Regions from separate parts of the Homo sapiens genome. Here region 2 is linked to region 1. A link means that fine-mapping ties the variant in region 1 to the expression of a gene that starts in the linked region. Tissue or cell type: prefrontal cortex. Region 1 holds a variant in brackets; the other region holds the start of a gene. All regions are shown on one strand. Distances are between the middles of the regions.

Evidence for each region. PIP is the estimated chance that this variant, and not a neighbour inherited with it, causes the effect.
Region 2: FRMPD2 starts here. The variant in region 1 is fine-mapped to the expression of FRMPD2 in prefrontal cortex (GTEx, PIP above 0.99).

Annotation. Positions count from the first base shown.
Region 1 is chr10:48,179,512-48,184,662 of GRCh38, forward strand. It overlaps FRMPD2 (FERM and PDZ domain containing 2), which reads right to left. Exons shown (of 29, transcript NM_001018071.4): 20 at 5,055-5,151; 21 at 1,292-1,497. Among named protein-coding and RNA genes, the nearest start is that of FRMPD2, 93 kb to the right of the region's middle. The variant G/T (reference allele first, on the strand shown) is at 2,895.
Region 2 is chr10:48,271,468-48,276,618 of GRCh38, forward strand. FRMPD2 (FERM and PDZ domain containing 2) reads right to left here and starts at 3,229. Exons shown (of 29, transcript NM_001018071.4): 1 at 3,076-3,229. The coding sequence starts at 3,100.

The DNA of each region.
Region 1 (5,151 bases):
CATGACTCTCCATTCTTCATCAAATATACTCAGGGAGAACTGTTTCTTCAGGTCATTTCCATAAGAAGGCTCACATGTCACATAAAACTTATAGTAAATACACGTGGATGCTTTTCTCTCATTAATCTGTCTTTAGTTACAGGGGTCCCAGCTGATGAAGCTAAGATGAGTAGAAGAAAGATACGGGTTTTATCCCCGACACTGGGCATAGTACCTTAGTTTCCACGGCTGTGGACAGACATCATTATCTCCATCATAAAAAGAGAAACGAGGTTGAAAGAGGTGCAATAACCTGCCTGTTTCAACCAGCAAGTTGTCCCAGCAAGAATGAGAAGGGCATACACTCAGCCTGAGTAAGGGAGGATAGGTCGTGGGAGACCTGTTTTCAAAGGTCTTGCCAGCCTTTGGAGAAACCAGTAATATCAGTTCAGCACCTGGGGCTGGAAACACTGGGTGCTGTGACCACCCCTGAGCCTGAAGGGCGAGAGAAGGGAGTGGTCGATGGACCCTGATAGGAGCTGTGCTCTTTGTAGAGGGGCACAGGCAACCTGTGTCAGCACAGGGAAAGAGTGGAATGAAGGGTGTGCAACTGAGACTCCAGCACTGCCACCCTGTCCTCACTCATCCCACAACTGCGGGCTCCTGCTGAGGCTTCGACTGGGCAGAACCAAGCAGAACACAGCAAGGTGACTCAGTCCATGAGCACCAGCTGTGCAGGGCCCAGAGCAGAATGGAGAGGCTGGGGCATGGGTCTGGCGGGGCCTGAGAAGACAACACCACTGGGAATCCAAAGAGACGGCAGAGGACAGCAGAGCTGGGACTGAAGCACACAGCCCTCCATACACCTACTCCAGATCCCATCTTCTTCCTCCATGGGGTATGGTCAAGAGCAAAGCCACTGAGTTCCCAGCTTGAGGACCAATTCAAGGACAAGAATAGGAGGTGCCTGGTTGCCCACGCCTTGCCATTGGCAGCAATCAATTTCCTCATGGTGCTATTATCACAACAATTATAATTAGTGACTAAAGACTCCAGAGGCACCCACACTGAGCCTGTGCCCAGACACTGTCCTAGAACTCTGCCTTCTTCTATGCGTTTTTCTCAACAACCATGCCATGCAGGCATTTGCTTCTGTATGCAAATGAGGAAGCTGTGGCTCAAAGGGGCTAAGTAACTTCCATCCACCTGACATGGAAAACAGAGAACAGGAAGGGCCTAGGGGCCAGGCTGTTGGGCTTCACAGTCTGTTCTCTTTCATCCAGATCTAGAAAGTAAACCAAGGGATGATTACCTTTAACGGCAGAAAGGAAAGCTGATGTCTCAGCCTGGGCACTAAGCTCTGCACCCCAGCCATGTCTAGTTCTTCAGTATTTCTGTCCTGGTCTTGTGTGTGTGACAACAAACTTCCCTGGTACCCGAAGCTCAGGATGTCTGTAGAGGAGACCCCAGAATTGGCTGTGCTATTCTTTTCTTCATCTGGGTTATTTCCACCAACACCTATAAAAACAAGCCAAGAAAAAGTCAACAGCTTAAAAAGGCCGGTTTCTTGGTGGCATCTCTATGTGGGCACAGCGTTTTCCTCCAGTGACAGAGTGATCGTTTATAGCTGCTCGGGTACAATATGAATTTAGCTCCTCCTGAAAGATGTTACATTTAGATTAGAGAAAGGGAAGATTCTACATGGGATTTAGAAACCTAGATAGAGCTTACGTGACCCAACTATGAATGCGTAGGCTCAAAAGAAGTTCATAAGGCCAGCTATCCCTTATTAAGCTCTAGCCATGTGATGGGCACCTTAGATATACATATAGGAAGATATGGACATCTTCCCATCTTCTCAGCAAACCCACCAGGAAGGTGTAATCCCAGTTCAAACATGAGAAAACAGAGTCAAAGCTATTAAGTGTCCTGCCCCAAATGCTACAGCCAGCATGTGGGAACTGTCTTAAACCCAGCCTCTCCTGGACACCCCACTGAGCACATCTGCAGCCACCATGTGATCCAAAAACCAACGTATCAGGTCCTTTTGGGAGGCTTGGTAATAACCAAACTGCAGGCCCCTGTGAGTGAAAGCTAGGCCACTGATTCCTGCTCACCCTGTGTCTGACTCGTGACCTGGCATAGAACAAAGAAAAGAACGTGAGGTTGTGAATCAGTAGAAAAACCTTGGGCAAGGTGCTTAACATAACTGAACCTAAATTTTCCTGTATCTAAAGTAGAGATAATATCAATATCAATAATATTGTAGAGTTGGTGAGGCTTAGAGATTATACGTACAGAAAAGATTTTACATATGTTAAGAAAGATAAAAATATATATGTATATATGAAAGAATATATATTCCCTCATATATATATATATATATATGGCTCTCATACACACACACACACACACACACACAGACACGCACAGCTTAGTACATGGTAGAGCCTCAATAAATGTATCTACTGTTAACATGTTATTATTAGCTGCTCCACAAATATATGTGGGAGGAATGAATAACAGTTAGATTTTCTTTAGACCTGGATACAAGTAGATTTACTACTTTTGATACAGACTCATTAACACTCAGGGAAGTGCCCAAACTCACATGCTGAATGAATTCAATTTAAATAAATCTGATTTAATGAATTTGATTTGAAGTTATTCAAATCTAAAGGTATCCAGCAGGGAGTGGCAGGGCCACTGTTTCATAATGCTGTATTTCTGGCCCTTTCATTCACAGATTCTGTCATCATTGTCCTTCTGGCAGTGTCATAAGCATCGGCTCATTCTCTTCCACATCCTCCATGAGAGGTGAGGATGGGACTTACGATTGAAATGAAAAGTCAAACCATGCTGCAACTGGTGTCCTGCCTAGTAGACATATGAGCTGGGAGACCTTTTTTGGTAAA[G/T]GAAACTCAATTTATTGTAGACCATGACAGATGCTCATGATGGACATTTTATCTGTCTGATCCTGATCTCCAATCTAGCCCAGCTGCCTTAACAGCAGCCTAAAGAGATAGAAGAAAGTCATGGTAGTCAAGTCTCTGCCACGGAGACCCAGCCAGCATCACCAAGGAAACATCTTCCTCTGGCAGTGGCCCAGCTATGAGGAAACCCCACCATGATGAAGGCAGCATTGCCAAAAGGTGGCTGGGGTGCCACAGTGAAAGGACATTTTATTCCCAGCCATTGTGGGAAACTCATTGTCTGGAATTCTAATGTGAGGTTGTGGTTTGAGAATAGCAGACCTCGAGTACTGCTTTTTGACAACCTCCATCACAGCAGGCCATCCTTGGACTATGCTGAATTGTGATTTGGTCACCTGCATTGTGTTTCCTGACAACACATGGGATGGTTTGACTGCTCCTGTCAGTGGAGGATGTGGAAGAAAACACAGGGATTGCTGAACCACTGCAGAAAGGAGAGCAGTGGTGCTGGGAAATCCAACAGACAGCAAGCCAGAGACTGGCATTGGAGATGTACTGAGGCCAGTCCCTGAGAAGGCTTCAACCCCAGGATGAAGGGTGTGGGGCTGAGACCCCAGCATGGCCACCTTCCACCACCCATAGCTTCTGGACAGGGGAGCTGCATGGCACTGTGTACAGGTACAAGAGTGAGAGAGCATGCATGCAGAAGTGTTCAGAAGGCAAGGCAAATGCAGTGCCTGCATTTAGTACCTAGAAAATGCTGGCTGGTGTGACAGGAAGTTCTCCTGTATACAAGGGAAAACTGTACAACACCCCTCAAGTGTGAAGAAGCAATCATGAGCCTGAATTTGCAGGCGGTCTGCTGTTAGTTTACAGGATCACCCAACCAAAAAGCAGCATTGGTCTCAGGAAACTAGGGAGAAGGGATGTTAGCCTACTCCCATTACTTCCTCCAGGCTCCTCAAGCTTGGTCCCGATAAAAACAATAGTATTTTCCTTTAATATAGGCAGTTGTTGCTCTCTCATTCTTATCTAAAGGATGAAGAAAAGCATCATCAAAAAGTACTTTACTCTTTAGGTTGATCAGGAACATGCACATCAAGTAAGAAGAGCGAGCTTGCCACGAAAATTCAGCTTTAAGAAAAGGCCAGGTGCAGTGGCTCATGCCTGTAATCCCAGCACTTTGGGAGGCTGAGGCGGGCAGATCACTTGAGTTCAGGAGTTCCAGACCAGCCTGGCCAACATATTGAAACCCCGTCTCTACTAAAAAATACAAAAATTAGCCGGGTGTGGCAGCGCGTGCCTGTAATCCCAGCTACTCAGGAGGCTGAGGCAGGAGAATTGCTTGAACCCAGGAGGTGGAGCCTGCAGAAAGCCAAGATCGTGCCATTGCACTCCATCCTGGGTGAAAGAGTGAGACTCCATCTCAAAAAAAAAAAAGGAAAATCAAATACCGCATGTTCTCATTTACAAGTGGGAGCTAAATAATGAGAACCCATGATCACAAAGAGGGGAACAACACACACCAGAGCCTACTTGAGGGAGGAGGATGGGAGGAGAGAGAGGATCAGGAAAAATAACTATTGGGCACTATGCTGAGCACCTAGGTGATGAAATGGTCTGTATAGCAACCCCTGTGACACGAGTTTGCCTGTAATAACAAACCTACACATGTAGCCCTAAACCCAAAACAAAAGATTAACAAAGAACAGTGCTTGTCTCCTCCCCAGCTGATTGCTATACCTATACAAAATATAGAAATTTTGTATAGGATTCTATACAAAATATAGAAATCCTGGAGCCGACCCTATCAACAAGGACTTTGGGTGGCAATAAAAAGGTCCTCCCTGCCATGCAAGGAGAGTTGACAGAAAAAAAAAGACTGGTTGTATCCAGCCGTGTCTAACAAAATTAGAGTAGGTTACTCCCTTTCAGCAAGACAAGCATGGTAACGCCCATTCTGCCCCTGAAATTGCAAAGCTTATTAATTTGTGCCACTACACTGCTTCTTTGCAAGCCAACACCATGAGGAAAGCAATATAGAAGACCTACGTGGACTTCAAGGTCTAGTACCTCACAGTAATCATGTACTCCTGAAAACAGGGGAGCCTCTTAAGCTCCCAAGAGTGGGTTAAAACATACCTTTTGACTGAGAAATAATTAATTCTATGTTGTCAGGGGAATTCTGGATCATCCTAACAGCCATGTTGAATGTGAAGCCCTCCAGACTGATGTGATT
Region 2 (5,151 bases), 92 kb after region 1:
AGCCTTGATCTGCCTCCTGCCTGGCACCAGCCCTCCTGGAACTGGTTCCTGTGCACCATCCTACACATCTCCTTCCTGCCTCCCTTCACTACCTACTCTATTTCCAACAATGTTGGGCTATGATAGCTCAAGCAAATACAGGAATAAGGAGGCTTACAGCCAAGGCAAGAAAAAAAAAGGGAGGGCAGTTAACAGTAGAGCTGCCAGCGACCAGTAAAAGGAAGCCTGAGGAATAGGAATCAGCCTCGAAAGCAGACTTCTGCCAGGAAAGCAGCTAAAAACACTGATATCTCAGGGTGAATACAATTCAGGAGGGGAATGAGAATAGAAAAGCATAGTGGCTGGAAGAGCAGGCTCCGAGGTCAGAGCTGGATTGATCCCACCTCACCGTGGGCAAGTTACTTCCTCTCTTTACTCGTTTATACCATGAGTTATTGTGTCTGGCATATGGCAGTTTTTCAATAAATCCTAGCTATTCATATTATGAATCCTGAGTATATGGAGAGGGCAGGGAATAGGCTAGAGACAAGCCAGCAAAACTGGGGTTTCAGACCAGAAATGACTTCACTAATGGAGCTGCAGGTAGCATTGTCCTGGGCTGCACACCGCAGCCCTTGCTATTCCTGAGCAGTTGAATTCATAGTCATCTATTCATGGTGTTCTTTTTAATAAGTCCAACATTTTGGTGAGTGACAGCTTCATCCCCAGAGAGAAGGAAGTATTCTTCCTAATTCTTCCTTCGTGCCCCCTTCATTTGCACCCATGAGTCATTTTCTCACCACTCTGTATTCTGCTCCTTAAACCTTTCTTGGATTCTGTGATATGCTGAAGAAGGCTCCTACTGGCCTGTGAGAGCCAATTGTTAAATTTCCAGAAATTTTGTAAGCTGGTCATTAAACACAGCCATTACCAAAAAGTATTATAAAAATCTCCAATTAAATAAGTTATATTAACAATATGTTGAAACTCACCATTTCCAAATTATTTTACTGCATTTTACTGTTGTCTGTGCTTTGGAACTTATTTAAATGAAATACATTTCTATGATGGAAATACTGTGTAATGGTGTGCTGGTGCACAGCCCTTCCACCTTTGTGTTCAGCGATATCACATTGGGAGCTTGTGATTGGCCATGGTGGTAGTATTTATACCACAAAAATTGGCAAAAGCTACAAATTAGGGCTTGGTTTGCTGTTTTTTCATTCCCTAAGAAAACTAAGAAAGTGATGGAGAAAATGTTCATGCAGATTAAACCTAAAAGTGTGTCGCGTCCATAGTTGTTACATTGTGAATAACACAAAAATTGGGAAAACACTCTTCCAAATTCAAAAACTATGATCTGATCCAGCAGTCACTCATGTCATTGACAGATGAGTGAAGTTAAGACAATCATCTTCATTGTTTCACTTTCTTCTTACTTGTCAATGTAAACAAAAATATCAACCAACATTCATATTGGAACTACATTCAGTGGTCAATTGCAAACAGGCTGACCAAGGGTATAAGAGTTCAGCAAAAATCAACAAATGCATGCTGTGAGAATCAAATGGCTATATAGAATTTGTAATAAAGAGTATTTTATATTTTATTACTTGTAAATTGTGCAATATACATCCTTCATATCAGTAAAATTTATAATGAACTTATTAGATGCATATGTATTTGTTTTTGCTCACAGTGCTGGCAGCACCAGCTTGGAGACCTCCCCTTCTCTACATTCCACTGTTGTTTTCTTAGGTTAGGCCATCTGTCATCATTCCAGGTTTCATCCTCTCCAATCCCACACCCATATTGCTACTAGATTAATCTTCTTAATATTAAATGCAGACACGACACATCCTTCATTAAAACTACCAGTGCCTATCTGGGACCTTCTGAGTGAACTCTGGGCCATAGAAGGCCTTCCTTGCTCTCCCCTGTTCACCTCTGCAGCCTCCTTTCTTATCAGATTCCCCTGTTCCCACTTTACTAAAGTTAGGCCAAACTGCCTGCTGTTCCCAGAGCATGCTTTACTTATTCATGCCACTGGGCCTTTGCATGTGCTTTTCTCTGCTTGGGATGCCTTTTCCAATCCCCCTGCTCCCAACTCCTGCTAGTGTTCGCTTAGCATTAAAGCCATGCTCAAGCAACACCTCTCCCAGGAGCCCGTGCCACCTCCATTTCGGCACTTGCTATCACCGCCAGTTTTCATGCAGGTCCAGCATTCTGCCCCCCGACCCCCACTGTCCTACAACCTGGAAGATCCTCTGGGCTGGGGGAGACATCCCCAGCATTTGGCATGTGGCCCCAGGAGATACCAAGTAAGTTCTCGTTGAATTAATGAACTACTTAATTGGTTTCAGCTACAGCCTATAGCAAATCACAGGATTTAGCCAGGAGAAATAGACACGACTCATCTCTGAACTCAATTGTTGCTTTAAAAAAAAAAAAAAGTTGTTTACACTGTTGAAAACCTCAACTGAGTTTTTTCTTTCCTTTAAGCATACAAATAAAGCCAGGTGAATCATTTCTTTTCCATTGTTTTCTGGAAGTCAGCTAGGCATACCCTGAGTCTTCTTACTTTAAACCACTGATACTCTTTAAGCAATAACCAAAACACTTGCTTCTGAAAGATAGTGACAGCCATGATTTACTGGGCTACTCAAATGCTCCAAGTATGTTCTAAGTGCCTTACGCGTGTCACCCCATGAATCCTCAGCAACATCGTAACGCATGGGGCATTATTATCCCCATTTTACAGGTAAGAAAAACGAGTCTTAGGAAAGTTAAAAGAGTCATTTGAATTTGCACAGATGCTGAATAGCAAAGCAGTGATTCAAACAAGGGGTGGTCTGATTCTAAAGTCCATGTTTTCTCTTCTGAGCCCATTCTTTATTGCTAAAAAACAAATACAATGTCTATCAGGCTTAGCCAATGGCCTGGAACAAATAATACTCCAAATAATACCACAAAGGGCACTGACACAGGTCCTTGCCCAGCTGTGTTCTTCTTATTCCGGATACCTAGACCCAGTAAGAAGTTTGCCCTTTCCCTGACCAGATTTATAGGAGAAAACTGAATGATGCCAAGGAATACCTGCGTCCTTCGTTAAAGGCTGCATCCAAAAGTCTCCGTGACCAGGTCTAGGCCTTCATCATGGGACAACTTTCCAACAAGGAGCAGGGGTCTCTTGCAAGTCTGTCCGCGGAGCTCCCTGCCACCAGCACTGTTGCCGCTGTCTTTGTTTACTGCTTGTCACTAAGCACTTGCTGCCCAGCGAGTGAGTCAACAAGGCCCCTTCCCTTTCCTGCCACCACTCTCATTCCCTGGGTCCTGCGCAGTCTCTGGCCTGTTAGCAGGCACTGCCACCCCAGCAGCCTGCGTCCTCAAAGCCAGTGACCCGTGAGAGAGCCAGGAAGAGCTCAAGTGGATTAGGTGCCACTGAAGGCAATGGGATTGCTGCTCAGCAGGGCTTTTACGCTGATGTCTCTTTATCTCCTGGCCCAATCAAAAGAAAGAGCTCTGCAAGGAACTGGGGGCAGCCCCAGAGCAGAGGCTTAGTGTCATCAACTCAAGAGTCCTCCATGCCCTTTCATAGTGTCAGACATTGGACCTGCAACCAACAGGACAGGGAACCATGTGAAAGCAGCAGGAGGAAATGATAACCTGGATCTGTCTGTGAGAAAGCAAGAAAAATGTGGTTAGAGAAAGGGGGAAAGGAATTCTTACTCTTTCTGGTGCTTGGATTCAGAAAGGAACCAGCAGAGATGGGGAACAGCAAGAAGTAGATCATAGCTCTGTAGTAGAAGGGGCAAAAGAACAGATCTCTCAAGCCCTTTAAATCAATAGCAGTGTCAAAACTGAGACGTATTTATTTAAAAAGAAAACATGAGTTTTTGCCTGACTACAGAATAAAATACTAAAATTTGAGGCCGGGCACAGTGGCTCATGCCTGTAATCCCAGCACTTTGGGAGGCCAAGGCGGGCAGATCACGAGGTCAGGAGATCGAGACCATCCTGGCTAACATGGCAAAACCCCGTCTCTACTAAAAATACAAAAAATTAGCTGGGCCTGGAGGCGGGTGCCTGTAGTCCCAGCTACTCCGGAGGCTGAGGCAGAAGAATGGCGTGAACCTGGGAGGCGGAGCTTGCAGTGAGCCAAGATCGGGCCACTGCACTCCAGCCTGGGTGACAGAGCGAGACTCTGTCTCGAAAAAAAAATCTGATGAAACTCAGTGCTGGTGAGGGCATGGAGAATGAGTACTCTCATATGCCAATAGTGAGATTACAGATAAGTGCAACTTCTCTGCAGGGAATTTGGTAATATTCATCAAATTTGTAAATGTACATATCCTTTGTAAACCCAGCTGCTAAGAAGTAACCCCATGGACATTCTTGCAAAAGTTCACCAAAGCATCTGAGAAAGGATGCTCTTTGCAGTGTATTTTGGTAGTAGCAGAAAACTGAAAGCCACTGAAGTGCCCATCAACAGTGATTATTGTAGTTCACACACAGTAGAAAACCAGCTATGCAGCTGTGTAAAGGAAGGAAGTAGATCTGTGTGTGCTGGCATATAACAATTGCCTAGAAAATTCTTTAAGTGACAAAAGGTATGGAATAGCCTAGTATGTTTCCTTTTATTACAAATAGGTACATAAAGACCAGGTATATTTACGTATATTTATGTATACATATTCTTTATACACTGTAGTATATTAGAATATTATGTAGACATATTCTTGTGGTTCTGGAAGGAATCACAAGCAACTTAATAGTGGTTGCTAGGGGAAAGAGTTTTGGCTCATTATTTAGTCAGGAAAATTATTGTTCATTTTGGTATTTTCCCCCTATAACCTTATGTTATATTACTTGAAAAAAACTAAAAAACACAATGTTTTACATTTTTTTCTGCTTAAAGCTATCTATATTGACATTCCCTGCTAGCTAGCAAAACATTTCACAATATCTGCAACAATCTTTTACTGTTTTTTCCAAACTTGTCTTCTCATCAGATTCAGCCTTGAAGACGATAAAATGCAGATTCCCAGGCACCACCCTGAATCTGCTGAACCTGAATCTCTGGGCCCGAGCCAGAGCATCTGTATTTTCAGCAAGTGTCCAGGTAATTTTTATTTAGTAATTTTTTCAGGCTGACCACGCAACCTTTCTCCC